Linked DNA regions of Homo sapiens. The protein of the gene in region 2 purifies or fractionates together with the protein of the main gene of each other region. This does not show direct contact. Each region holds a gene or a part of one and is shown on either strand. Other genes may lie near its edges.

Evidence for each region.
Region 1: the proteins of SLC71A1 (region 2) and MMP10 purify together in Homo sapiens (affinity purification with mass spectrometry; one large-scale study listed by BioGRID and IntAct). This does not show direct contact.
Region 3: the proteins of SLC71A1 (region 2) and DSG2 purify together in Homo sapiens (affinity purification with mass spectrometry; one large-scale study listed by BioGRID and IntAct). This does not show direct contact.
Region 4: the proteins of SLC71A1 (region 2) and MPZL1 purify together in Homo sapiens (affinity purification with mass spectrometry; one large-scale study listed by BioGRID and IntAct). This does not show direct contact.
Region 5: the proteins of SLC71A1 (region 2) and RNH1 purify together in Homo sapiens (affinity purification with mass spectrometry; one large-scale study listed by BioGRID and IntAct). This does not show direct contact.
Region 6: the proteins of SLC71A1 (region 2) and LNPEP purify together in Homo sapiens (affinity purification with mass spectrometry; one large-scale study listed by BioGRID and IntAct). This does not show direct contact.
Region 7: the proteins of SLC71A1 (region 2) and PTPRZ1 purify together in Homo sapiens (affinity purification with mass spectrometry; one large-scale study listed by BioGRID and IntAct). This does not show direct contact.

What each region holds. Positions count from the first base shown.
Region 1 is NC_000011.10:102,777,829-102,781,952, forward strand, and holds the start of MMP10 (stromelysin-2 preproprotein), read right to left. Parts: upstream 2,801-4,124; 5' UTR 2,764-2,800; coding exon 2,659-2,763; intron 1,918-2,658; coding exon 1,676-1,917; intron 1,534-1,675; coding exon 1,385-1,533; intron 922-1,384; coding exon 796-921; intron 1-795. UniProt on the Homo sapiens protein: Can degrade fibronectin, gelatins of type I, III, IV, and V; weakly collagens III, IV, and V. Activates procollagenase.
Region 2 is NC_000001.11:100,044,595-100,048,094, reverse strand, and holds part of SLC71A1 (hippocampus abundant transcript 1 protein), read right to left. Parts: intron 1-3,500.
Region 3 is NC_000018.10:31,543,177-31,546,342, forward strand, and holds part of DSG2 (desmoglein-2 preproprotein), read left to right. Parts: exon of another isoform or gene 1-219; intron 220-2,544; coding exon 2,545-3,166.
Region 4 is NC_000001.11:167,770,482-167,773,981, reverse strand, and holds part of MPZL1 (myelin protein zero-like protein 1 isoform a precursor), read right to left. Parts: intron 1,708-3,500; coding exon 1,494-1,707; intron 747-1,493; coding exon 614-746; intron 1-613. UniProt on the Homo sapiens protein: Cell surface receptor, which is involved in signal transduction processes. Recruits PTPN11/SHP-2 to the cell membrane and is a putative substrate of PTPN11/SHP-2.
Region 5 is NC_000011.10:494,015-497,242, reverse strand, and holds the end of RNH1 (ribonuclease inhibitor), read left to right. Parts: intron 1-2,189; coding exon 2,190-2,360; intron 2,361-2,464; coding exon 2,465-2,552; 3' UTR 2,553-2,728; downstream 2,729-3,228. UniProt on the Homo sapiens protein: Ribonuclease inhibitor which inhibits RNASE1, RNASE2 and angiogenin (ANG). May play a role in redox homeostasis. Required to inhibit the cytotoxic tRNA ribonuclease activity of ANG in the cytoplasm in absence of stress.
Region 6 is NC_000005.10:96,939,080-96,942,579, reverse strand, and holds part of LNPEP (leucyl-cystinyl aminopeptidase), read right to left. Parts: intron 1-3,500. UniProt on the Homo sapiens protein: Release of an N-terminal amino acid, cleaves before cysteine, leucine as well as other amino acids. Degrades peptide hormones such as oxytocin, vasopressin and angiotensin III, and plays a role in maintaining homeostasis during pregnancy.
Region 7 is NC_000007.14:122,012,661-122,016,160, reverse strand, and holds part of PTPRZ1 (receptor-type tyrosine-protein phosphatase zeta isoform 1 precursor), read right to left. Parts: coding exon 2,272-3,500; intron 1-2,271. UniProt on the Homo sapiens protein: Protein tyrosine phosphatase that negatively regulates oligodendrocyte precursor proliferation in the embryonic spinal cord. Required for normal differentiation of the precursor cells into mature, fully myelinating oligodendrocytes.

The DNA.
Region 1 (4,124 bases), on a different chromosome or scaffold from region 2:
ACAGAGTCTCACTCTGTTGCCCAGGCTGGAGTACAGTGGTACAATCTCGGCTCACTGCAGCCTCCATCTCCTGGGTTCAGTGATTCTCGTGCCTCAGCCTCCTGAGTCTTGTACTCAGGAAAGATGTTCTTTGCATTTACATTAAAAATCCCAGGCACTGTCAGAAATAGTGATTATTTCAACAGTGTGTTTCTAAACTTCAGAAGCCATTTTAAAAATTAAATAGCATACAGTTAATTTTAGTCATTATGTTTAGATGTAAAGTGTTTCCAAGCCAATTTAGGGCGAAAAAAACCCATCTAAGCTAGAGACAGTGACATGTTTATTCGAAAAGATGACCTAACAGTTTTTTTTCAGTTCCTGGCATTTTCTCCTGATCTCTACTTTTAAGTAAAAAGGAGGCCAATGAGAAGAAAGAAAGAAAACCTGAGGGCAAATGTTAGGATTGGAACTGGTTTAATGGAATTCATTCTATCCTAATCATCTATCATTAAAGTGATGAAAAACATTATTAATTATGCTGATCCTCAAACCCCCACAAGATCCTGAGTTGTGGAGATGAGGTTGAATGGTTTTTACAATATTGTACTTGGTGGGGGCAAACATGAAAATACAGACATTTTATAAAATTCTTCAATAATGATTGAAACAAACAGTACTTCTGTTTAAAACTCAGGTAATAAAAAAATTCAGTTACTAGTATATTCGATTTATTGCTCGTTCTAGATAATCCAATTATTTTTGGGTAGGATTGGACATTATTCCTGAAATGTTCCCGAGAGGTTTACGACCCACCTGATGCATCTTCTGTCCATTTTTCATCATCATCAAAGTGAATATCTCCATAAAGCCCAGGTCCAGGTGGGTAGGCATGAGCCAAACTGTGTCCTGGGCCATCAAAAGAGTAAAAGTCTCCATGTTCTGATAGGGAACAAATTAATGGAAATATAAGTGTTCAGAATTTCTTTTTACCCTGTTCCAATTAAACAACAGTAGATTCTATAGTCTGAATGTTGGTGTCTGCTGCAAATTCATATGTTGAAACTCAATGCCCAATGAAATATAGTATTAAGAGGTTAGGTCTTTAGGAAGTGATTATGTCGTAAGTGCTCTGCCCTCATGAATGAGATTAGTGCTTTTATGAAAGAAGCTTGAGGGAACCTCCTGGCCCTTTCTATCGTGTGAGGACACAGAAGGTACCATCTATGAGGAATAGGCTCTCATCAGACACTAAATCTGCTGGCACCTTAATCTTGGACTTCCCAGCCTCCAGAATTGTGAGCAATAAATTTCTGTTGTTTATAAATTACCCAGTCTAAGGTAACTTGCTATAGCAGTCTGAACAGATGAATACACCAGATAAATGGATGCTTTATTTGATTACCTTTAACTGCAAAAGAGATCATTATATCAGCCTCTCCTTCATACAGCCTGGAGAATGTGAGTGGAGTCACCTCTTCCCAGACTTTCAGAGCTTTCTCAATGGCAGAATCAACAGCATCTCTTGGCAAATCTGGTGTATAATTCACAATCCTGGAGGAGAAAAATTGAAGAGGATGTTATTTTCTCCTGCCTTTATGAAAAATTGTTAAAGAAAACTTTATGTTACTTATCCAAATATGACGAGTAACTTATAAGGTTTCAATATTATGTGAAAACTAATCTGAACCATTACCTGTATGTAAGGTGGGTTTTCCTCCACTTCGGCATGCCAGGAAAGGAGCTGAAGTGACCAACGTCAGGAACTCCACACCTGGGCTTGCGCATCACCTCCAGAGTGTCAGTGTCTAGCTTCCCTGTCACCTCCAACCCAAGGAACTTCTGCATTCCTTGGATTTTTTTAACAATGAGATTACTGTCCTTTCTTCTAAACTGTTTCACATCCTTTTCGAGGTTGTAGTACTTTTCTAGGTATTGCTAATGGAAAATAGAATTTTTAGGGCATTTTTGTGATTTTCCATCATTTATCCAACTTTTATAATCCATCGTAATTTTCCTCTAGTTTCTTAAAACAAAAGAGGCTATCACATTTAATTTGATTTTTCATTAAGACTCCCCATTTCATACAAATTTTTAAATTTTATTGCAATGTTAGTTTGCTAGTCAAGTAAGGAATTGGGGATTGAAAATTCAAGTCTAGCATTATTTTTGTTAGTTTTTAAAGAAACCCTCTTTTAACATAGTTTTGTGAAAAGTTAGAATACTAACCTTTTCTACTTACATTGTTATTATAGACCTGGTTTAAGACTGAAGTGTGGTAAACTCTTTTGTCCAAATATGACAAGTAAAAATATGAAAACTATTACCTGATATGATTTAAAGATCAAACTTAGCATGCTCCCCTCCCCAATAATTTTAACTAAATAAATTCTAAAGCCAGAGGAGTTTCATATATTCTCCATATGTTCTTTTCACTTAGCCACAAATATACTGCTACTATTTTATTGTAACCTTGAGCAGTTATATTCCCTTTCTGAACCTTTCTTTTCTTCTCTGTTAACATAAAAATAATTTCCACCTCCAGCCTGTTAATTATTCTCTGATGCTACAGTTTTCTAACAAAGTGATCTCTAGTCTAATCATTCTGCTTTGTATTGGAAGACCAAGTAGACACAATTGAGCTGGCCAGTAGCTGCAATAGATGCCACCGTTAATTACCTGGGCAAGATCCTTGTTGGAGTCCTCCTCTTTTGCTGCCCCACTCAGAGGATAGGCAGAGCAGACTGGCAGACACAACAGCACAAGGAATGCAAGATGCATCATTCTCACTGCCCTTACCTTCTTTGTCTACTGGGCTTCTAGCTCTACCCCCTAGTGGCCTTTCTTTTATACAGAGACAATGCTGAGATCACCAACAGTATGATTCATGCATGTGTTTTTTAAGTCTGAATGTTCACAAACATTTAATGTAATGGTGATACAGCCTACATCAGTATTTTCCTTCAACTTTCTAAACTTGAAAGAATGATTAATCCCCAGGAAATGATTTCTGTGTTTGTAAAGACGAAAAAGAATTGGCTAGATAATTCACGTCTCTGTATTTACTTAAAGAGAGCTGACAAGCTTGGTAAAATGCCAAATGTTTTGACATTTTAAAATCAGTGCAATTTTCTTTTAAGAAGATTATGTTTTAAACTTAAATATAAGCAGGTAAGAATTAAGTAGGTCAACGGAAATAAATTCCAAATATAGTCGTGGTCTAAATGTGGGAGTTGTTATTTACAAAGATATTAAAACAAATATTTCACTTCTTGAGTCCTTGTTTACAATAGCTATTATTGATTTTCAGATGGATTTACTGGCCGTGGAGTAGGGGTATTGTGAGAAGGACATGGAGCATGTAGAGAAAAGAATCCAAAGAGAGAAGCTTTGGTGTTCACTCATTCTCCATTTCCCAGTGTATAATTATGTTCAAAGTAACTGCTCCATAAAACTTGTTAAATGGAAAAAATTAAATTGCATGTTAGACTGAAATGGTCCTCCTACCCTCTTCCTCTTCTTTGCTTTTAAAAATTCTTTTCCCCCTTTCTTTCTCCTCTTAAGGTACAAAGGAGGAGATGGATTGAGATCTGTAATGGGAAATGATTTCAAATCCTCCCTTTCTTTCACATGTCTAACGATCCACCCCTGCCCACAAATAGTATTTTCTTTCTTGTTTTCTCAGCCAAATAAAGTGCTTTTTACGCAGTAACACAGTAAGTCTGCAATAACTGTTTTGTCAAATTAACCTGTTAATATAAAGAACCCTGAAATTCTTATAGTAAAGAACTATATTTTTCTCTCACTAAAGATAAATTAACTCTACCATGTCTGAAGTACATAATTGCAAAGTGATGAGAGATTAAAATAATAAGTGTGTAGGAATGATCTTTTCAGTATCGCCCACCATCCCCACCCTACTTAAGGTAGCCTGGACAGGTGAGACTTCCAGGAACCAAGAGGCTCTGAGACTTCCAAGCCAGAGTTGGAGAGAAACTGGGATATACACTGAGCCAGCCAAGTCAACTTGTGACTTACTGTTGCCAAAGAGTTTGCTCTACAGTGTGGTGACATCAGCTTGAATATCAGAGGGAGAAGGACTGACAACTAGACTCAAATAAAGTCAGCTGGACATTGAGCAAGTA
Region 2 (3,500 bases):
CAGGGCTTAAAGCATGCTAATTTTTTTAAAAATCAAAGTAGGATATAACATGTATAGGTAGGGTAATTTCAACTCTGAAAAACAATAAATACTGACCTCAATGTAAATAAAATTTATATTAGGTAATGATTTTAAGTGATATCACATTGTTTACTATGCTATTCTGAATTTTCCATATCTTTTCTAATAAGCATGCTTGCACTTTAGGAGGAAAATGCTTTGTTTATTTAAGAGAAAAATTACCTAAAACTAGCATGGAGAAAAACAAAATAAACTATGGGACAATATCTCTGATGAACATTGATGCAAAAATCCTCAACAAAATACTAGCAAACCTCCTTCAGGAAGGAGGTCTTAAAAAAGATCATTCATCGGCCGGGCGCAGTGGCTCTCACCTGTAATTCCAGCACTTTGGGAGGCCAAAGCGGGTGGATCACCTGAGGTCAGGAGTTCAAGACCAGCCTGACCAACATGAAGAAACCCCGTCTCCACTAAAAATACAAAATTAGCCAGGCGTGGTGGCGCATGCCTGTAATCCCAGCTACTCAGGAAGCTGAGGCAGGAGAATCGCTTGAACGCGGGAGGCGGAAGTTGCGGTGAGCCAAGATTGCGCCATTGCATTCCAGCCTGGGCAACAAGAGCAAAACTCCGTCTCAAAAAAATTAAAAACAAAAAAATCATTCATCATGTTCAAGTGGGATTCATCCAGGTATGAAAGGATAGTCCAACATACATAAATCTATCAAGGTGATACATCATTTCAAAAGAATGAAGGAAAATAAAATGATCATTTCAATTAATGATGAAAAAGCATTTACTAAAATTCAACACTGCTTCATAAAAACTCTCAAAAATGGTATAGAAGGAACATACCTCAATATGATAAAAGCCATATATGACAGACACAGAGCTATCATGCTGAACAGGGAAAACCTGAAAGCCTTTCCTCAAAGATCTGGAACAAGACAAAGATGCCCACTTTCGCCACTCTTATTCAACAAAGTACTGGAAAGTACCAACTAGAGCAATTAAGCATGAGTAAGAAATAAAAGGCATGCAAATTAGAAAACAGGAAGTCAAAACTGTCCCTCTTTACAGATGACATGACCTTATATAGAGAGAACCCTAAATACTCCACCAAAAAACTATCAGAATGGAAGCAAATTCACTGAAGTTGCAGGATACAAAAATCAGTACCATTTCTATATGCCAACAGCAAATATCTGAAAAAGAAACCAAGAAAATAATCCCACTTACAATAGCTACAGATGTAATACCTAAGAATAAACTTAAAGAAGTGAAAGATGTCTACAGACTACAAAACATTGATGACACGAATTGAAGAGGACACACACACAAATGGGAAGATATTTCATGTTCATAAATTGGAAGAATCAATACTGTTAAAATTTTAATACTACCAAAAGCAATCTACAGATTCAATGCAGTTACTATCAAACTACAAATGACATTCCTCACAGAATTTTTTCTTTTAAATCCTAAAACTTATATGGAACCACAAGAGCCAGAACAGCCAAAGCAATCCTGAGCAAAAAGAACAAGGCTGGAGGCTGGGCACAGTGACTCACGCCTGTAATCCCAGCACTTTGGGAGGCCAAGGCGGGCGGATCACCTGAGGTCAGGAGTTCAAGACCAGCCTGGCCATCAAAGTGAAACCCCGTCTCTACTAAAAATACAAAAATTAGCCAGGCGTGGTGGTGGGACCTGTAATCCCAGTTCCTCGGGAAACTGAGGCAGGAGAATCACTTGAACCAGGGAGGCAGAGGTTGCAGTGAGCCAAGATTGCGCCACTGCACTCCAGCCTAGGCGACAGAGCTAGACTCTGTCTCAAAAAAAAAAAAAAAAAAAAAAAAAAAAAAAACGAGGCTTGGAGGAATCACATTACTTCACTTCAAATTATACTACAAAGTGATAGTAACCAAAACAGCATAATACTGGTATAAAAACAGATACATAGACAATAGAGCACAATAGAGAACCCAGAAATAAATCCATGCATTTACAGTCAACTCATTTTTGACAACGGCACCGAAGTATACATTGGGAAAAGGATAGTCTCCTAAATGGTGCTAGGAAAAGTGGATATCCATATACAGAAGAATAAAATTATACCCCTACCTCTTGCCATGTACAACAATCAAATCAAAATGGATTAAAGACTTAAATCTAAAACCTGAAACCACAAACGACTAGAAGAAAACATTGGGAATACACTCTAGGACATTAGTCTGAACAGATTTATTTATTTATTTATTTATTTTGAGACAGAGTCTCCCCGTCACCCAGGCTGGAGTACACTACTGTACTATGTATGTCGCCTGGGCGACAGAGCGAGACTCTGTCTCAAAAAATAAAAAATAAAATAAAATAAAAGTGGAATTGGCATGTTCCTAACACAAAGAAATGATAAAAGTTTGAGGTAATGGATACCCCAGTATCCCTGATTTATTATACACTGTATACCTGTATCAACATATGCTTGTATCAAAATATCAGATGTACCTGATAAATATCTGTATCTACTTTGTACCCATAGTAATTAAAAAATTTAGAAGTCCTAACCAGAGTAATCAGACAAGAGAAAGGAATAACGAGCATGCAAATTGGAAAAGAGGAAATCAAACTGCCACTGTTTGCCAATGATATGACTGTATACCTAGAAAACCCTAATGACGCATCCAAAAAGCTCCGAGATCTGATAAACGATTCAGTAAAGTCTCAGGATACAAAATCAATGACACAAATCAATAGCACTGCTATATTCCAGCAACGACAAAGCTGAGAATCAAATCAAGAACTCAATCCCTTTTACAATAGCTGCAAAAAAAACAAAACACCTAGGAATACACTTAACCAAGGAAGTGAAAGATCTTTACAAGGAAAAGTACAAAACACTGTTAAAAGAAATCATAAATGACACAAAGGGAAACACATCCCATGTTCATGGAAGGGAAGAATCAACATTGTGAAAATGACTATACTGACCAAAACAATCTATAGATTCAATGCAATTCCCATCAAAATACCAGCATCATACTTCACAGAACAAGAAAAAACAATCCTAAAATTCATATGGAACCAAAAAAGAGCCCACATAGCCAAAGCAAGACTAAGCAAAAAACAAATCTGGAGGCATCACATTACCCGACTTTAAATTATACAAAAGGCTACAGTTACCAAAACCGCATGGTACTGGTATAAAAATAGGCATGAAGACCAATGGAACACAACAGATAACCCAGAAATAAAGCAAAATACTTATAGCCGCCTAGGCATGCCTGTAATCCCAGCATCTTGGGAGGCCAAGGCGGGTGGATCACCTAAGGTCAGTAGTTTGAGTCCAGCCTGGCCAACATAGAGAAAACTCGTCTCTACTAAAAATACAAAAAAGTTAGCCAGGCATGGTGGTGTGTGCCTGTAATCCCAGCTACTTGGGAGGCTGAGGCAGGAGAATGGCTTGAACCTGAGAGGCAGAGGTT
Region 3 (3,166 bases), on a different chromosome or scaffold from region 2:
AGATTGTACCTGGGAAGCTGCCGTCCTTGTGACCCAAAGAAAAGAACAAGGCAGAACCAGGCAATGGCTCTCAAAGCCTCCACCTTTTTACACCACATTTCATTGACCAAAGCAAGTCATATGACCAAGACAGATGTCAGTGGGTCGGAAAGTTGCATCCCTCTGCAGGAGCAGGCTTGGTAGGGATGAGCTCCGTAGGAGAGGCAGAGGATATATAACCTAAAAAACACAATCTATTAAGTCCATTTAAATTTTACCTTCTGTATGAGAGTACTTGGCTTTGCTATTATGAGGGTCCACCAAAAAATGATGAGAAAAGTTCCAGGAAGATGATCAGATGCAATAAGGAAGCTCATGCTAGAATTGAGGAATTAGAAGCAGAACTGAAAATAAAAGTATAATGTAGAGGTCAGGCACAATGGCTCATGCCTGTGATCCCAGCACTCTGGGAGGTCAAGGCAGGCAGATCACTTGAGCCCAGAAGTTCAAGACCAGCTTGGGCAATATGTTAAAACCCTATCTCTCCAAAAATACAAAAAATTAGCTGGGCATGCTGGCACACACCTGTAGTCCCAGCTACTCAGAAGGCTGAGGTAGGGGGATCACTTGAGCCTGGAAAGCCAAGGATGCAGTGAGCTGTGATCATACCACTGCACTCCAGCCTGGGCAACAGAGTGAAACTCTGTCTAAAAAAAAAAAAAAAAAAAAGTATAACATAGAGATAAAGTATACTTCAGAACAAGGAATATTACCAGGAATAATGAGGGATAGTTCATAATGAAAAATGAGTCAGTTCATCAGGAGGCCTGAAACTCCTAAATATGTCAGAACCTAATAACAGAAATTTTTAAAACTTAAAGCAAAAACAACTGAAAGAGAAACAGACAAATTCATAATGATAGTTGGAGAGTTCAACCTGATCTATCAGTAAATGAAAGAACAAGTGACAGAATCAGTAAGCATATAGAAAACTTAGTACTGTGAACCAAATGGATCTAGTTGATACTGACAGAACACTCTATGCAACAGAAGCAGAATACACATGCTTTTTCATATAGACTGTATTCTAGAACATTAAATAAATGTAAATAACTTTTAAAGAACTGCAGTCATACAATGTACTTTGATGAAAAAAAAATTAAAACCAGAGATCAGTAACAAAGAGATATATAAAATATACTCAAATATTTATAAATACACATGACTGCAAATTAAATTATACTTCATGAAAATTTGTGGGGTACTACTAAAGTGATGCTTGAAGGGAAATTGTAGCAAAAATGGCTATATTAGAAGATGGTTCTCAAATCAGTGACCTAAGCTTCCACCCTCAGAAGTTAGAAGAGCAAATTAAACCCAAAACAAGCAGAAATAAGATAATGATGAATTTTAGAGCAGAAATCAATGAAATATTTAGCAAAAAGTAATAAGAAAAAAAATTGAAGCCACAAGCTTATTATTTAAAGAGGTCAATAAAATTGATAAACATTTTACCAGACTAATTAGGATATTAAGAGATTAAGCACAAACTATGGATGTTAGAAATAAAATAAAGAACTTTACTACAGATCTTACAGACATAGTAAGAATAATTTTTTAAAAAGTAGGACTGGGTGGTTTTCTTGAGAACAAGGCCCTGTGCTCCCATGAGAATGGACAGAGTTGGAATATAAGGCATCTGAAGGGCCCTAGAGAGGAGTAAGGGGAGGGGCTTCCATTGAGGAAAGCAAGTTACTTCTGTCCCCCTCTTCTAAATTTGCAAATTATTAGCGTGCTTTCCCACTTTCTGCTCCTTTTTAACCTCCCATCTTTCATACCATCCTTCACCCACCTTCAAGTATTAGCTTAACAGGGATGTGGGTGGTGTCAAGCAAAACCATTTCTTGGCCTTTCCTGTCTCACTGCTAAGCTCAATTCTAGCGTCCTGTTTGTTTTCTTTTGGTAAGTTTTCCCTCTCTCCACTCTAATCCTGCTCCAGTCATTCTTGGTTATGTATGTGTGTACTAACTTTTGATTTGGAAGTAATTTCAAAGTTATCAGAAAATTTGCAAGAATAATAGAAATTTTGAACCCAATAAACATTTTGCCACATTTGCTATTTGCTTTTCCATTTTCTCTGTCTCTCTCTCACTGACACACATTCACACACATTCTCTTACATTACTATAGTACAGTTAACAAATGTAGAACTTTAATATTGACATAGTCCATATTTCAGTTTAGCCAACTATCACACTATCTTTTACAGCAATTTTGTTTTTCTCAGGATCCTGCATTCCATTTAGTTGTCCTGACACTTTAGTCTCCTTTAATCTGAAACAGTCCCCTCTGCCTTTCTATTTTTTCCCTGATATTAATTTTTTTTAAGAATACAGTCCAGTTGTGTCGTAGGATCTCTCTCAATTTGTGTTTCCCTGATGGTTCCTTGTAATTAAATTCACATTACTGCATTTTGAACAGGAATATAGAGTCTTGTTTTAAAATGAATTTATATTGCTAATTATTTGTCTGTTTTGTGTTTGTTTTGTTTTGTTTTCATTTTAGAAAGCGGCCTCTTACACTGAGGAAGATGAAAATCACACAGCCAAAGATTGCCTTCTGGTTTATTCTCAGGAAGAAACTGAATCGCTGAATGCTTCTATTGGTTGTTGCAGTTTTATTGAAGGAGAGCTAGATGACCGCTTCTTAGATGATTTGGGACTTAAATTCAAGACACTAGCTGAAGTTTGCCTGGGTCAAAAAATAGATATAAATAAGGAAATTGAGCAGAGACAAAAACCTGCCACAGAAACAAGTATGAACACAGCTTCACATTCACTCTGTGAGCAAACTATGGTTAATTCAGAGAATACCTACTCCTCTGGCAGTAGCTTCCCAGTTCCAAAATCTTTGCAAGAAGCCAATGCAGAGAAAGTAACTCAGGAAATAGTCACTGAAAGATCTGTGTCTTCTAGGCAGGCGCAAAAGGTAGCTACACCTCTTCCTGACCCAATGGCTTCTAGAAATGTGATAGCAACAGAAACTTCCTATGTCACAGGGTCCACTATGCCACCAACCACTGTGATCCTGGGTCCTAGCCAGCCACAGAGCCTTATTGTGACAGAGAGGGTGTATGCTCCAGCTTCTACCTTGGTAGATCAGCCTTATGCTAATGAAGGTACAGTTG
Region 4 (3,500 bases), about 68 Mb from region 2:
CACCATCATCACACTGGGCTGGGGGAGGTAGTTTATTAAAACCACTGCTTTTTCTTCTTCTTTCTTTCTTTCTTTTTTTTTTTTTTTAAAGAGACAGGATCTTGCTATGTTGCCTAGGCTAGATTCAAACGCCTCGGCTCAAGCAATCCTCCTGCCACAGCCTAAGTAGCTGGGACTTACAGGCACATGCCACTAATTCCAGCTCACAACTTCTTAATTAGGGTTTTATATTTCCTAACTGGAAAGAACCACCTTGTGAGTTTATTAGCAAGAAATTGAAATTAAACTCTTAAATTGGGTAAGTGATGTCTTAAGAATACTAATTGCATAGTGGATGGTATTGAAACACAGAGCACAGACTGCTGAGCAGCTCATCTCACCAAACCTAAGAAGGAAACTGGAACAGAGATTAGAATCATATTCCACATTTAATAGCAGGCCCACTGATTTCCACTTGCCCATGTTAGAACACCTCCTAAGGAGACTGCCTGATTCTGACATGAAAGAAAATAGTAGTTAATTCTTTAAAATCCTTTTTTCATTAAATACAGAAGTTTCTATAAACCCTGATTCCCTCCCTCCACCCCTGCCCTAAAAAAACAGTGTTTCTTACCCAGTGTAATCCCGTTTAGAGTTTTTCCTTCTATAGAGGACAGCCAGAATCATGCTGATGAGCAGAGTGAGACCTAGGACCACAGCAGTAACTATGCCCACCACTACCCAAACTGGAAACACAGGCAAATTCTCTAGAGAGAAAGAACAAAATAGTTTTAAGGTACATTGCTACAGAGAGAAAACATGGAATTTTATTAAATTAACGAGCAAGTATCTTCATTTAGCAGTTACCGTACCCTCTTTTATTATCCAAACTATGAGATCCTACTATCTATCCTATTACTATGTAATTCATGACATGTGAATATTAGATGAGAAAGAATGAACTATGGAACTAAGCATTTCTACACCTACAATCCCTCTCAGTGCTCTAAAGAAAAACCGGAGGTGTGAATTTACCTGGATCTACTCTCCAACAAAACAGACTTTGTCTCAAAAATGAGACACCAGAACCTGCATTTCCTGTTTGTTCTCAAAATCAAAAGGAAGAAATAACTGTGCTGTTGTTGAAAGCTTTCTCCTGGAGAATATAAAACAGTATGAATCTCCTTCTTTCCCACTGCCCATCACATCCAAACATAATGAATTTGGTCTTTCTTCTAATTAACACTGAAAAATTCATACTCCTGAAATTAGACCAATAGGCACCAGACGGTAGGAATAAAAATGGAGAAATCAGCCACTCTGGGTCAGAATGAGCAACAAGTTTCCCAGCTCCAAGTGTGTTTGGTAGAGCCACAGGTTCGTGGCAACAGGGAGCACAACTGTATGGCAAAAATCCTCCCTCCAAACCCACCATGAAATGCAACTCATGTTTTCCAACCAAACATGAGATAAAGGAGACTGCATTATTACTGCCAAAATACTCAAGGAAGTACCTTTTTCTACGACATAGAGCCTAATGTGTCCAGGCTGGACAACGATGTCAGGAGGGTTTTTGACATCACAGATATAGGTGCCATTGTGTATAAACTGCATATTTTCTATGTTGATTGATGCATCTTTCTTGTCAAGGTCTCCAGCCCAGCTGATTCTGTCTTTAAATGGTGGATAATTCCCAAGGTACACTTGCCCTTGGGAGTAGTGGAAAAACTGCAATTAGAAAAAAGGAACACATGAACTATTCTCAAAGGCAGAATTCCTAAACTCTGTAATGTGCATGCTATGAAAGGTTCTTTTAAAGACTTCATACGGAAAGAAATGCAACATCTCTCTCCCTCTCCCTCTCCCCCTCTCTCTCCTCCTTTTTTCGGTCTCCCTCTGTTGCTGAGGCTGGACTGTACTGCCGTGATCTTGGCTCGCTGCAACCTCCCTGCCTCGGGCTCCTGTGATTCTCCTGCCTCGGGCTGCCGACTGCCTGGGATTGCAGGCACGTGCGGCCACGCCTGACTGGTTTTTGTATTTTTGGTGGAGAGGGGTTTTGCCGTGTTGACCGGGCTGGCCTCCAGCTCCTGACCTGGAGTGTTCTGCCTGCCTCAGCCTCCCAAGGTGCTGGGTTTGCAGATGGAGTCTTGCTCACTCAATGCTCAATGCTGCCCAGGCTGGAGTGCAGTGGTGTGATCTCGGCTCGCTGCAACCTCCACCTCCCAGCCACCTGCCTTGGTCTCCCAAAGTACTAAGATTACAGCCTCTGCCCAGCTGCCACCCCATCTAGGAAGTGAGGAGCGTCTCTGCCTGGCCGCCCATCCTCTGGGATGTGAGGAGCCCCTCTGCCCGGCCACCCTGTCTGGGAAGTGAGGAGCGCCTCTGCCCGGCCACCACCCCGTCTGGGAAGTGAGGAGCGCCTCTGCCTGGCCGCTGTGCAATCTTCCAAGTGTGAAGTGACAGCCTTTCTGCACGTGTACCCAACAGCTCCGAAGAGACAGCGACCATTGAGAACGGGCCATGATGACGATGGCGGTTTTGTCAAAAAGAAAAGGGGGAAATGTGGGGAAAAGAAAGAGAGATCAGATTGTTACTGTGTCTGTGTAGAAAGAAGTAGACATAGGAGACTCCATTTTGTTCTGTACTAAGAAAAATTCTTCTGCCTTGGGATGCTGTTAATCTATAAACCTTACCCCCAACCCCATGCTCTCTGAAACATGTGCTGTGTCAACTCAGGGTGAAATGGATTAAGGGCGGTGCAAGATGTGCTTTGTTAAACAGATGCTTGAAGGCAGCATACTCGTTAAGAGTCATCACCACTCCCTAATCTCAAGTACCCAGGGACACAAACACTGCGGAAGGCCGCAGGGACCTCTGCCTAGGAAAACCAGAGACCTTTGTTCACGTGTTGACCTTCTCTCCACTATTATCCTATGACCCTGCCACATCCCCCTCTCCGAGAAACACCCAAGAATGATCAATTAAAAAAAAAAAAAAAAAGAAATGCAACATCATATTACAAATCACAAGTTATGGAATCTAAGCCAGACAGAAGTTTAGAGATCACGGCACTCAACCCTGCCAGGTTTCAATGGAAGAATCAGACTCATATATCACCTCTAATCCTCTCAATATTTCATTGATATAATTATTACCACCCATAATTTTATAAAAGACAAAATGGAGACTTAAGAGAAGCCATTTTCCCAAGGTACCAATGATAGTAAATTGGGGACCCAGAGTAAAATTTAGGCCCATCTGAGTCTTCAAAGCCAATGTTCTTCCAGTAACACCATGATTGAGCCCAGTGATTCCCAAGGCTTCAGAAAGCTTAGTGTTGAGTTAGCTTACCACTAAGATACACAGAAGCACAAAGGAGAAGAATCCTAAATATCTCAGATCAGCTAATCTGAGTTTCGCCCTCTTCCTTCTGGTTTCCTATGGAAAAGTCATGGGTGTGTGAAAGGAACAAAGCCCAGATAACACAAGATACTCTTGCCGGCTTTTGAAAGTTCAGCCTT
Region 5 (3,228 bases), on a different chromosome or scaffold from region 2:
CCGTGTGTGAGCACATGGGCGAGAGTACGTGAGCACATGGGTGAGAGTGAGCACGAGTGTCCGTGTGTGAGCACATGGGTGAGAGTGAGCATGAGTGTCCATGTGAGTGTGAGCACATGGGCGAGTGAGCACGTGAGTGTGGCACATGGGCGAGAGTGAGCACGAGTGTCCATGTGAGTGTGAGCACATGGGCGAGAGTGAGGGTGCATGTTCATGTACTGGGAAAGGCGGGCTGGCGGCACCACTCTGGCTTAGTTCTCATTTTAACTCTGAAAGTCAGAGGTCATGTTTCATGAAGCCTGAGAGCTTCACGGAGCTCCAGCCTACCTGGCCACCCTGTGGTCCATCTTCCTGGAAGCCCCGCCCACCTTTCTCCCTTGCGGGAACCCCGCCTGTGTCAGGATGTTTTTCCAGATTTGTTTTCTTTGTTAAAGCACGTTCTTTTGCAGCTTTCTAAGAAAAGGTTTTGCAGGAGGTAATTTTTGGGGTCTTGTGCCCCTGTTCTGTCCTTGGATCATTTAGCCGGGTATAGCATGCACCATTATGCCCGGCTAATTTTATTTTGTTTGTTTTTTTGAGAGAGTCTTGCTCTGTCGCCCAGGCTGGAGTGCAGTGGTGCGATCTTGGCTCACTGCAAGCTCCGCCTCCCAAGTTCATGCCATTCTCCTGTCTCAACCTCCCGAGTAGCTGGGACCACAGGCGCCCGTCACCACACCAGGCTAATTTTTTGTACTTTTAGTAGAGATGGGGTTTCACCGTGTTAGCCAGTATGGTCTTGATATCCTGACCTCGTGATCCGCCTGCCTCGGCCTCCTAAATTGCTGGGATTACAGGCGTGAGCCACCACGCCTGGCCTAATTTTTGTATTTTTAGTAGAGATGGGGTTTCACCATGTTGGGCAGGCTGGTCTTGAACTATTGACCTCAAGTGATGAGCCTGCCTCAGCCTCCCAAAGTGCTGCGATTACAGGCGTGAGCCACTGTGACCTTGTGTGCACGATCTGCTTTTTCTCGTTGGCAGCTTTTCAAGCTCTCTTTGTTCACTGTGTTAGGGGTTCCATGTGCTTGGCCTTGATGGGGGTCTTGGTTCTTTGTGCTGGATACTTGGTTCTACTAAGAAAATATACCTTTGGTGATTTTTTTCTCTCTCCTTTCTTATGTTTCTTTTTTGGTGTGCCCATGAGCCTGTCCTGATGTCTTGTGGAGTGACCCTCTAATTATGTTCTCCAAATTTTCTTTTCGATGTTTTGTTTTATTTTTGGGAGATGTTCTCATTTACCAGCCAGTCTACTGAATTTCCACCCTCAGTGTTTTGTCTTTTGTTTGCTGTTTCCCGTGTGCCTCTCGCCAGGGGCTTTCCGTGGGTGGCTGGTCATCCTGGGCTGGGCACCAGGTGCAGAGTGAGGCCCGGGAGCCCTGGACAGTGAGCCCTGCAGGCCGAGTCATGGCTGCGTTTCTCGAGGGCTTCCTCCTGATGGGGGATTTTCAGTTCCCTGCCAGGGGACACCATCCTGGCTGCCAGGACCTTGTGGGTGTTCCAGATGTGGAGAGGAACCTTGGGTCCTGGTCACTGCAGACTTGTTCCCCCTGAGCCACTCACAGGGTGGGGGTCCTGCAGCTTCCCTGGCCCCCACCTTGGAGAGGTCCAGTGCAACTCCTTGGCCCTGCTGTCCGGCCTGTGGCGGCTCCACCCCGGGAAGTGGGTGTTGGGTCTTCTCTATCCCATCCTCTTTTGTCTGACCCGTTCTCTTGTCTCTCTCTGGAGCCTAAAGTCTGTTGTCCACTCTGTTCTTGTCTTGGTACCCTCCATACCCTCGTTTCCCCACAGCTGCTCCTCAGTCTCTGGCTGGCTTCTCCTTTGAAGCCCACGCAGCCAGACGGTGTCGAGGTGACAAGGGGGTGGGTGTGGCTCTCTGGGTGGACGACATCTCTCTCCTGTCCTTTCTCCTCCCTGCAGAAGATCTCAGGCGAGTGAGGCTGCTTGTGCCTCGCTTGTCTGTGCCTTCCTTGTCCGTGGTGGGGAACCTGCCCAGGGCCACAGGGACGGTGAGCCTTGGGGACGGCCCCACCTGAGGGTCCTGAGTTGCCGAGCACAGGTGTCCGTCGCGCCCCCCAGGCCCAGGCCTGCTCTGCCGGTCAGTGCGGTGCCAGGCACGCCCGGCACCCTGACCCCCGCCCTGCTTCACCCAGGTTGGCCGACTGCGATGTGAGTGACAGCAGCTGCAGCAGCCTCGCCGCAACCCTGTTGGCCAACCACAGCCTGCGTGAGCTGGACCTCAGCAACAACTGCCTGGGGGACGCCGGCATCCTGCAGCTGGTGGAGAGCGTCCGGCAGCCGGGCTGCCTCCTGGAGCAGCTGGTGTATGTGCACGCGCTGGGCGGGTGGTGCGGCCAGGGCTGCCCAGGGAGGAAGGCGGGGGTGGGGGAGGACACGGGCCCATGCCTCCCTTCTGGCCTGTGTGCAGCCTGTACGACATTTACTGGTCTGAGGAGATGGAGGACCGGCTGCAGGCCCTGGAGAAGGACAAGCCATCCCTGAGGGTCATCTCCTGAGGCTCTTCCTGCTGCTGCTCTCCCTGGACGACCGGCCTCGAGGCAACCCTGGGGCCCACCAGCCCCTGCCATGCTCTCACCCTGCATATCCTAGGTTTGAAGAGAAACGCTCAGATCCGCTTATTTCTGCCAGTATATTTTGGACACTTTATAATCATTAAAGCACTTTCTTGGCAGGAGAGGCTCTTGTCCTTCCTGGGGTCCTTGCGAGGCGCTGGCATTGGAGACGACACCACCCCACTTGGCTTCTCTCCCTGCCTAAGGGACCCCGCACCAGGGAAGCAGCCCAAGGCCCTGGCTGTGCTCAGCTGGGTCCCCTGAGCTGCACCCACCCACACTGGGGAGCACAGGGCAGGCCCTGCCCAGGGTGGAGGGATGCCCCTTGGCTCTGTTGCCCGTGCAGGGTGACGCCTGCTGGGAGCTGCCTGCAGGCCCAGCTGCTCCCGCAGCTTCCACCCCGGAGCCTCAGGAGCCCCCAGCACTGCCCTGACTGCCCCCCAGCCCAGCCCAGCCCAGCCCAGCCCAGCCCAGCCCAGCCCAGCGCGGCCCAGCGCGGCCCGGGTTCCTGCCCGGAGCCCAGTGCTCGCCCCAGCTCTGTGTGGGATGATGGGGCAGCCCATCTTGCCCACGGGTGGACAGCTGACCAAGGTGGGCCAGCCCGGGGTGCCCTGCCCTG
Region 6 (3,500 bases), on a different chromosome or scaffold from region 2:
TGGGTCCAAGTGATTCTTGTGCCTCAGCCTCCCGAGTAGCTGGGATTTCAGGCACGTGCCAACATACTCAGCTAATTTTTGTATTTTTAGTAGAGACAGGGTTTCACCATGTTGGCCAGGCTGGCCTCAAACTCCTGACCTCAGGTGATCCGCCTGCCTCAGCCTCCCAAAGTGCTGGGAGTATAGGTGTGAGCCACCGCGCTGGGCCTAGAGTGATTCTAATTCAGTGAATTGCCACCTCTGGCTTCATGGGCGTTTTTCTGTATCTCCTGACCAACCTGTTTTTTGGTGAGAGCGAGCGGCGGTGAGTCAGGAGCAAGAGCAGGCTTACCACAGCTCCACACCACGTTGTTTATCAAAGAGCTATATTTTTTCTTTAAATCTAAAACATTCAGACAAGTGAACAGTCCCAACTTACGAGTGACTGAATTTTCTGACTATAAAAAAGACAGTATGCTTAAATTTCTGGCAAATGTTTTCTATCTCTTGGCAAGGCTCCCAAATGCCAATCTTAACTCATTTGTCCCCTGAGCCCCCAATTCCATTAATCCAACCAGACCTACCTACCTGTCCCCTTCCAACCTAGACTCTGTCTTCAACCTCATACAACAGTGTCCTGCTCTCCAACTGAAGCTCATTTCTGAACCAAAGACTTGCAAGGATCAAGGCATGACCATTTTTAAAATCTCTGCCTATCAGCTTCTTCCTTTACCCCCAATCTCCACATTTCTTTCATCTTCATCATTGATTCTCCTCTTCCAATTTTCTCTAAACATCTTTGTAAAATGCAAAGTCCTTCAGGTGCTGCTAGGACAATCACAAATGAATTACAACAATGGATAAGGTTACAAGGGAATCCTGTCCACCCTTCCATGGACACAGAGAACTCTTGATGTTCCATTTACTGTCCAGAAACACCAAGGCAATAAGCAACACTCTCTATAACGGCCATATGTAGATCTAGGTCAAGATCTAGATATAAAAAGAACTGTACCACCACAAGGGCTCCAAAATGTCCCTTCATTCTCAATCCTGGCTTCTTGCAAACTTTCAGAAAAGTTGCTGAAATTTATCTACGGATTCAAATTAAAAAAATAATAATAAATAAATAAATAAAAGACTGTGTCTTTCTGGTTGCTCCAATTATACTATGGAAAGGCCTAGTAGTATCAGCTCAACTCCAGCCCCCTACAGTAGGTTTGCCCAACCCCAAGGCCACAGACCAGTACCAGTCTCTGGCCTGTTAGGAATCAGGCCACACAGCAGGAGTGAGCAGCAGGCAAACAAGTGAAGCTTCATCTCTACAGTCAGTCCCCATCGTTAGCATTACCACCTGAGCTCCACCTCCTGTCAGATCAGTGGTGGCATTAGATTCTCATAGGAGCACGAACCCTATTGTGAACTGCGCATGTGAGGGATCTAGGTTGTGTGCTCCTTTTGAGAATTTAATGCCTGATCTGTCACTGTCTCCCACCACTCCTAGATGGGACTGTCTACTTGCAGGAAAACAAGCTCAGGGCTCCCACTGATTCTACATTATGGTGAGTTGTATAATTATTTCATTGTATATTACAATGCAATAATAATAGAAATAAAGTGCACAATAAATATAATGCACTTGAGTCATCCCCAAACCTTCTCCCCTTTAGAATATATCACAAACTAGAAAGTATACATACATCCCCCCGACTGTGGTCCCTGGTCCCGAAAAGTTTGGGGACTGCTGCCCTACAGTTTTCAAGTCATGAGGTGACTAATTGACAAAACATAGCTGCACTGACCTCACCTCGACTGCCAAGAACCACAGGCCTCATCTAGGTCCATCCCAACATCTGGGGTAATCTTGGCTAAACTCTTTCAAATCTCAATTTCCTAATGTTTTCATAGACAGGGTTAATACTGCTGTTTCCTAATAGGAGTATTACACTAAATTAGTAGACATGCAAACAGTTATGAACAGTTTCTGTACATTTATTTCATAATTAGAATACTGTCTTAGACAAAACTTTATTGCTTTTTTATTTCTTCTGTGTTTCCATATTTCATATTAGCATGACAACAAAACTAGGTTCTTCTATTCATTTCTCTTATTTAGGTAAGCATTATCTGATGACGAGGTTGTGGGTTTTTTTTTTTTAATGTAACTGTGTCTAGCAGAAAATCTACTTGTAAATGGGCATTCAAAAGATAGCTGTATGATTGAATTACTGAGCAGAAAATTACCACTTATTTTCTATATAATTTCCTTATAACCAATCTCTCTGGTTATCTATCTTTCAGGCTGAGTTCTCAAGGATAACCTACAGATAAATGATAATCACCGGTTATAAGAGTTTCTAAAATATGCTGTTTTTATGCATGTATCAAGACAGTTTTTGGAAACTGGCAAGTAATAGCAAAGAACTTTTCTACCACTAGTTTCCAGTTAAAAACTGGGCTGTTTCTAGCTATAGCTTTAACCCTAGATTGTTAGTGATGCTAACACTTAATTCCTAACAGTCTTATTTCCCCCAAATAAAATTAAAAACTTAAGACAGAAAGATAAAAACAGGATTTAACTTATATTCCATCACACAGAGAAACTATGAGCTCCTATTTCTTAAGAGTTGTCTTTCAATGTGGAAATTTATCATAGAGCAAAAGAAAAATAAAAACAAAATGTGGTATGCTCACATTTTTGAGAAGTGATGCTAAAAATTTTTTTTTAAAAAGACTCACATATCTATAGAACAATTGTTATTTGTAAGATTAAAAGATGGAATCACAATTTTATACTGTATTACAACCCACAAATATCTCATTTGTTGCCCAGACTTCCCATTTTTGAAGTTGAAAAATACTTTCAACTGGATACCAATCTGAACATGAAAGCAAAAATAATTTTTTAAGACAACTAAGTCCTCCTTGTTTGATTATGCACCACACTGCGGTAATAAAAGTGATTCATAGGACCTACATTCATATGAAAAAAAAAACTATTTATGTTTTCAGTTCTGGGACCTCAAAATGCCAAAATACCAACCTTTAGATATACTTTAGAATATATCACAAACTAGAAAGTATATATACTTTCAGCTGGGCGCGGTGGCTCATGCCTGTAATCCCAGTACTTTGGGAGGCTAAGGTGAGCGGATCACTTGAGGTCAGGAGTTCACCTGGCCAACATGGTGAAACCTCATTTCTACTAGAAATACAAAAATTATTTGGGCATGGTGGCGGGCGCCTGTAATCCCAGCTACTCGGGAGGCTGAGGCAGGAGGATCACTTGAACCCGGGAGGCAGAGGTTGCAGTGAGCTGAGATTGTGCCACTGCACTCCAGCCTGGGCAACAGAGTGAGACTGTGTCTCAAAAAAAAAAAAAAAGAAAGTATACATACTTTCTAGTATGTATTTCATATATAATCAGACCTCCTTAATCAGATTCTGAGGGTGAACCTTAGCATTTGCATTTCTTAAGATGAATTTAAGTTTTTACAAAATATACCAACCCTGCATGCAAA
Region 7 (3,500 bases), on a different chromosome or scaffold from region 2:
TCATGTGACCTGGATCAAATAATCTAGTATCTTTGGGTGTCAGTGTACTCATTTATAAATTGTGGATACTAATATTTGCCTTATCTATAGTATTTTAAAGAACACATCCTGTAAATTGTTCTGCATTCTAGAAATACACCATAAAATCTTAAGTTTCAGAGCTAGTCTGCATGCATTTGATAAAGGGATATATTCAATTATTGGATAAGACAGATTACATATGATTTTATAGATACAGTTTTAAAAATAGGCCAGAATTTTCCCCTAATCTTGTTTGATCTTATTTACTTCACTAATTATGTTACTTGATAATGTTGGATGTCATATTCATATTGTTTTATCCTAATTAGTGGGAGAACACACTCTTGATAATTAAATAAAACTAATTAGTGCACTGAAGAGAAATTTGCTAAGCTTTAGTCAATAATTTTAGGTTTAGCATCTCATTATATATATCCTTCTATAATAGCATAGTCTAGCAAGAACGTATCAATGTCACTACCTGGTAAGACAGATAGATGGATTCCTGATATTTTCTTTTAACATAAATCTAATGAAAACTAAAAAGCAGCTACTATAATTGAGAACAGATAACAGTTCATATATATGACAGCACTAATGACTATAGTGACCTATGGATTCATTATTCATTCTCACATATCAGCATTTAAGTGTTTAAAATGCAATGTTAAATAGGTATCAATTCAGAATACAGAAAAAGTTTTCTATCAAAATGTACAAACTTTTAATTGCTGCTGCACTGAAGAAAAAATATACAACTAATTAAAAAGATGAAATCGCAAAGAGGAAAAATATTCTAATGAGACTGATGTCTATGTTCTGGATTACAAATATTCACTTTTATACAATGAGTGCATTTTGTTACATTAGCCTATCATTTAACTTGATGTTAAGATTTAAATAGTTTCATTATTAAACTTTAAGATACGTTCACATTTAATAAAAGCAAATTATAAAATTCTTATGACCAATTCAATGAAAGTATTACTTTTCTATACTTAATAGGATTGAACTTCCCTCTTCTTTCCATTGGCATTTAAAGCAGACATCTGTATTATAAACACTGCACATAATCTGCTCTAAGAAACATCTGGTCAGTAAGCTAATTTGCATAAAATACATTCACAAATGAAATTCATTTCTACAGAAAAATGTTTAGTGTTTTACATCTTGTGATACAATACCTATACATACTGTACATATTAATGCCCATTATTTAACTTAAAAAAGTGTGTAACAGCAGGCATAAAGTAAAATGTATTTTGATGGTTTACACTGCCCTCTTTAGGCAACATTAAGATAAAGAAAGACAAAAAAATTAAAATTTTTTTTAACTTCATTATTAACTCTCAAAACTTAGTAATAAAACTAAATAAATAAATAAATACATAAATACCTCCCTGGCCTGGTGCAGTGGCTCACGCCTGTAATCCCAACATTTTGGGAGGCCGAGGCGGGTGGATCACGAGGTCAGGAGATCAAGACCATCCTGGCTAACATGGTGAAACCCCGTCTTTACTAAAAATACACAAAATTAGCCTGGCGTGGTGGTGGGCGCCTGTAGTCTCAGCTACTCGGGAGGCTGAGGCAGGAGAATGGCGTGAACCTGGGAGGCGGAGCTTGTAGTAAGCCGAGATTGCACCACTGCACTCCAGCCTGGGCGACAGAGCGAGACTCCGTCTCAAAATTAATTAATTAATTAATTAAATAATAATAATAAATAAAGCTCCCCAAGCTGATATGAATGTGGAAATTAACTAATTCCTTTCTACAGGGGTGTGTCAGAGAGAAGTGCTTATGTCACATTACTCTCAGATTTAATAATTCATTTTATAATTAAATAGAATTAGTTTACAACTTATTTTAGAACAAAAGTATGAAAATTAAAATCATCTAAAATAGCATACTCTGATCTTGCTTTAAAAGCAGTGTACTAAAAATGTATTATGCAAACAGAATTGCCCCCACCCATAAAAGACATCCTGTAGAGTATGAAATATTGACAATAAATAAAAATTGTTTTGTCTATTTTGGAGAGAATTAAATTAAAAACCAAAATGTGTTAAATAATTGTTTGAAATAATAAATAAAATTATACTTCAGAAACTGGAGACTGATTTGTTGAATGTTTTGATTTTAAAAATGATGATGTACCATTTTACCAAATTTCTATCTTTCTATAATTTTCATTTTACTTTTAGAGCAAGCAAACCACCACACCTCAATCTGTCCTTCTGATCCGTAACTAACCTGCCTCTGAAACGTGGAACACTTCTGAGTTCTCGCTAGTAACAGATGATGTTGGGGACTGTGGGAATCCAGGAGTTATTTCTGAGTCACCTGCTGCCAGGATCCCATCAGCATCTTTTTCATTAGTGTCTGCAAAACTGAAATCTGTGGAAGTCTCATTCTCATTAAGGCTATCTGAGGTACCTTGCCCTGATCCACTTTCTTCATCACTTGTCAGAACTGCCCATGCTTTAGATTCAGGGCTGAGAGGAAGCAGAGCACTACCAGTCTGAATGTCATTTTCCTCTTTTCCATCATTGTGCTTTTGGGATAGCCCATTTGCTGATGGTGATTTACCAGGACTTCTGTCCATACCAGTTTGACTGTCTGAGGATACACTTGTGACTCTATTATCTTCTTCAGAATTCTCAGATAGTGAGTATGAGATTGGATTATTCTGATCCATAAGACTGTTTTCGTGGGTGTCTGAATCATTCATTACCTTTTCCTGTGATTCTCTATAGGATGAGCATGACATACACTTATGAATGGATAAGCCATCACTACCTCTGTCATCATCATCATCATCACCATCATCATCAGTGTCACCATCTTCACCACCACCCACTAAACCGGCATCAGATTTGGCACTATGACTCAGCTCAGAAGTTGCCTTAGAAGGAAACAGCAACTTTGTTGAGGTTACAGAACCATCTCTGTGGGGAGAAACAGCTGTAATGGCAACATGCCCATTTCCTATAGGAACAGAATGATCAGTAGATACAAATGTATCAGAAGCAACTGTTGGAATACCAGCAAATACCTTACCAGTAACAGAACTTTTGGTGGAGGTTAAAATTTCATCGGAATGTATAAGCTTATTTATTAGTGTATTTAATGGTTCATCAATTGATAAAACAGGTGTAGCAAATACATGCCTTCCTTTTGGGGGATGGGCCTGGTTAATCTCCAAATTGGCCGTTTGGAACAACTCATCATTACTGTACAAAGAAGGTACCACTTGGTGGGAACTTTCACTTTTTAACAAAACTGGTTCATATTTCTCACTTGCATAGGAAATGGTCAAACCTTGAAGTGAAGCAGAGTGCATATGAGAAGTAGGCGACACATCAAAAACTGGTACAGATGTAGAGTGCAGCATGTTTTCACTTGAAGCAGAATTTGATACAATGAGATGCAACATTGTAGAACTAATTTTATCAACTTTGGGGGTTTCAACCAATATTGGA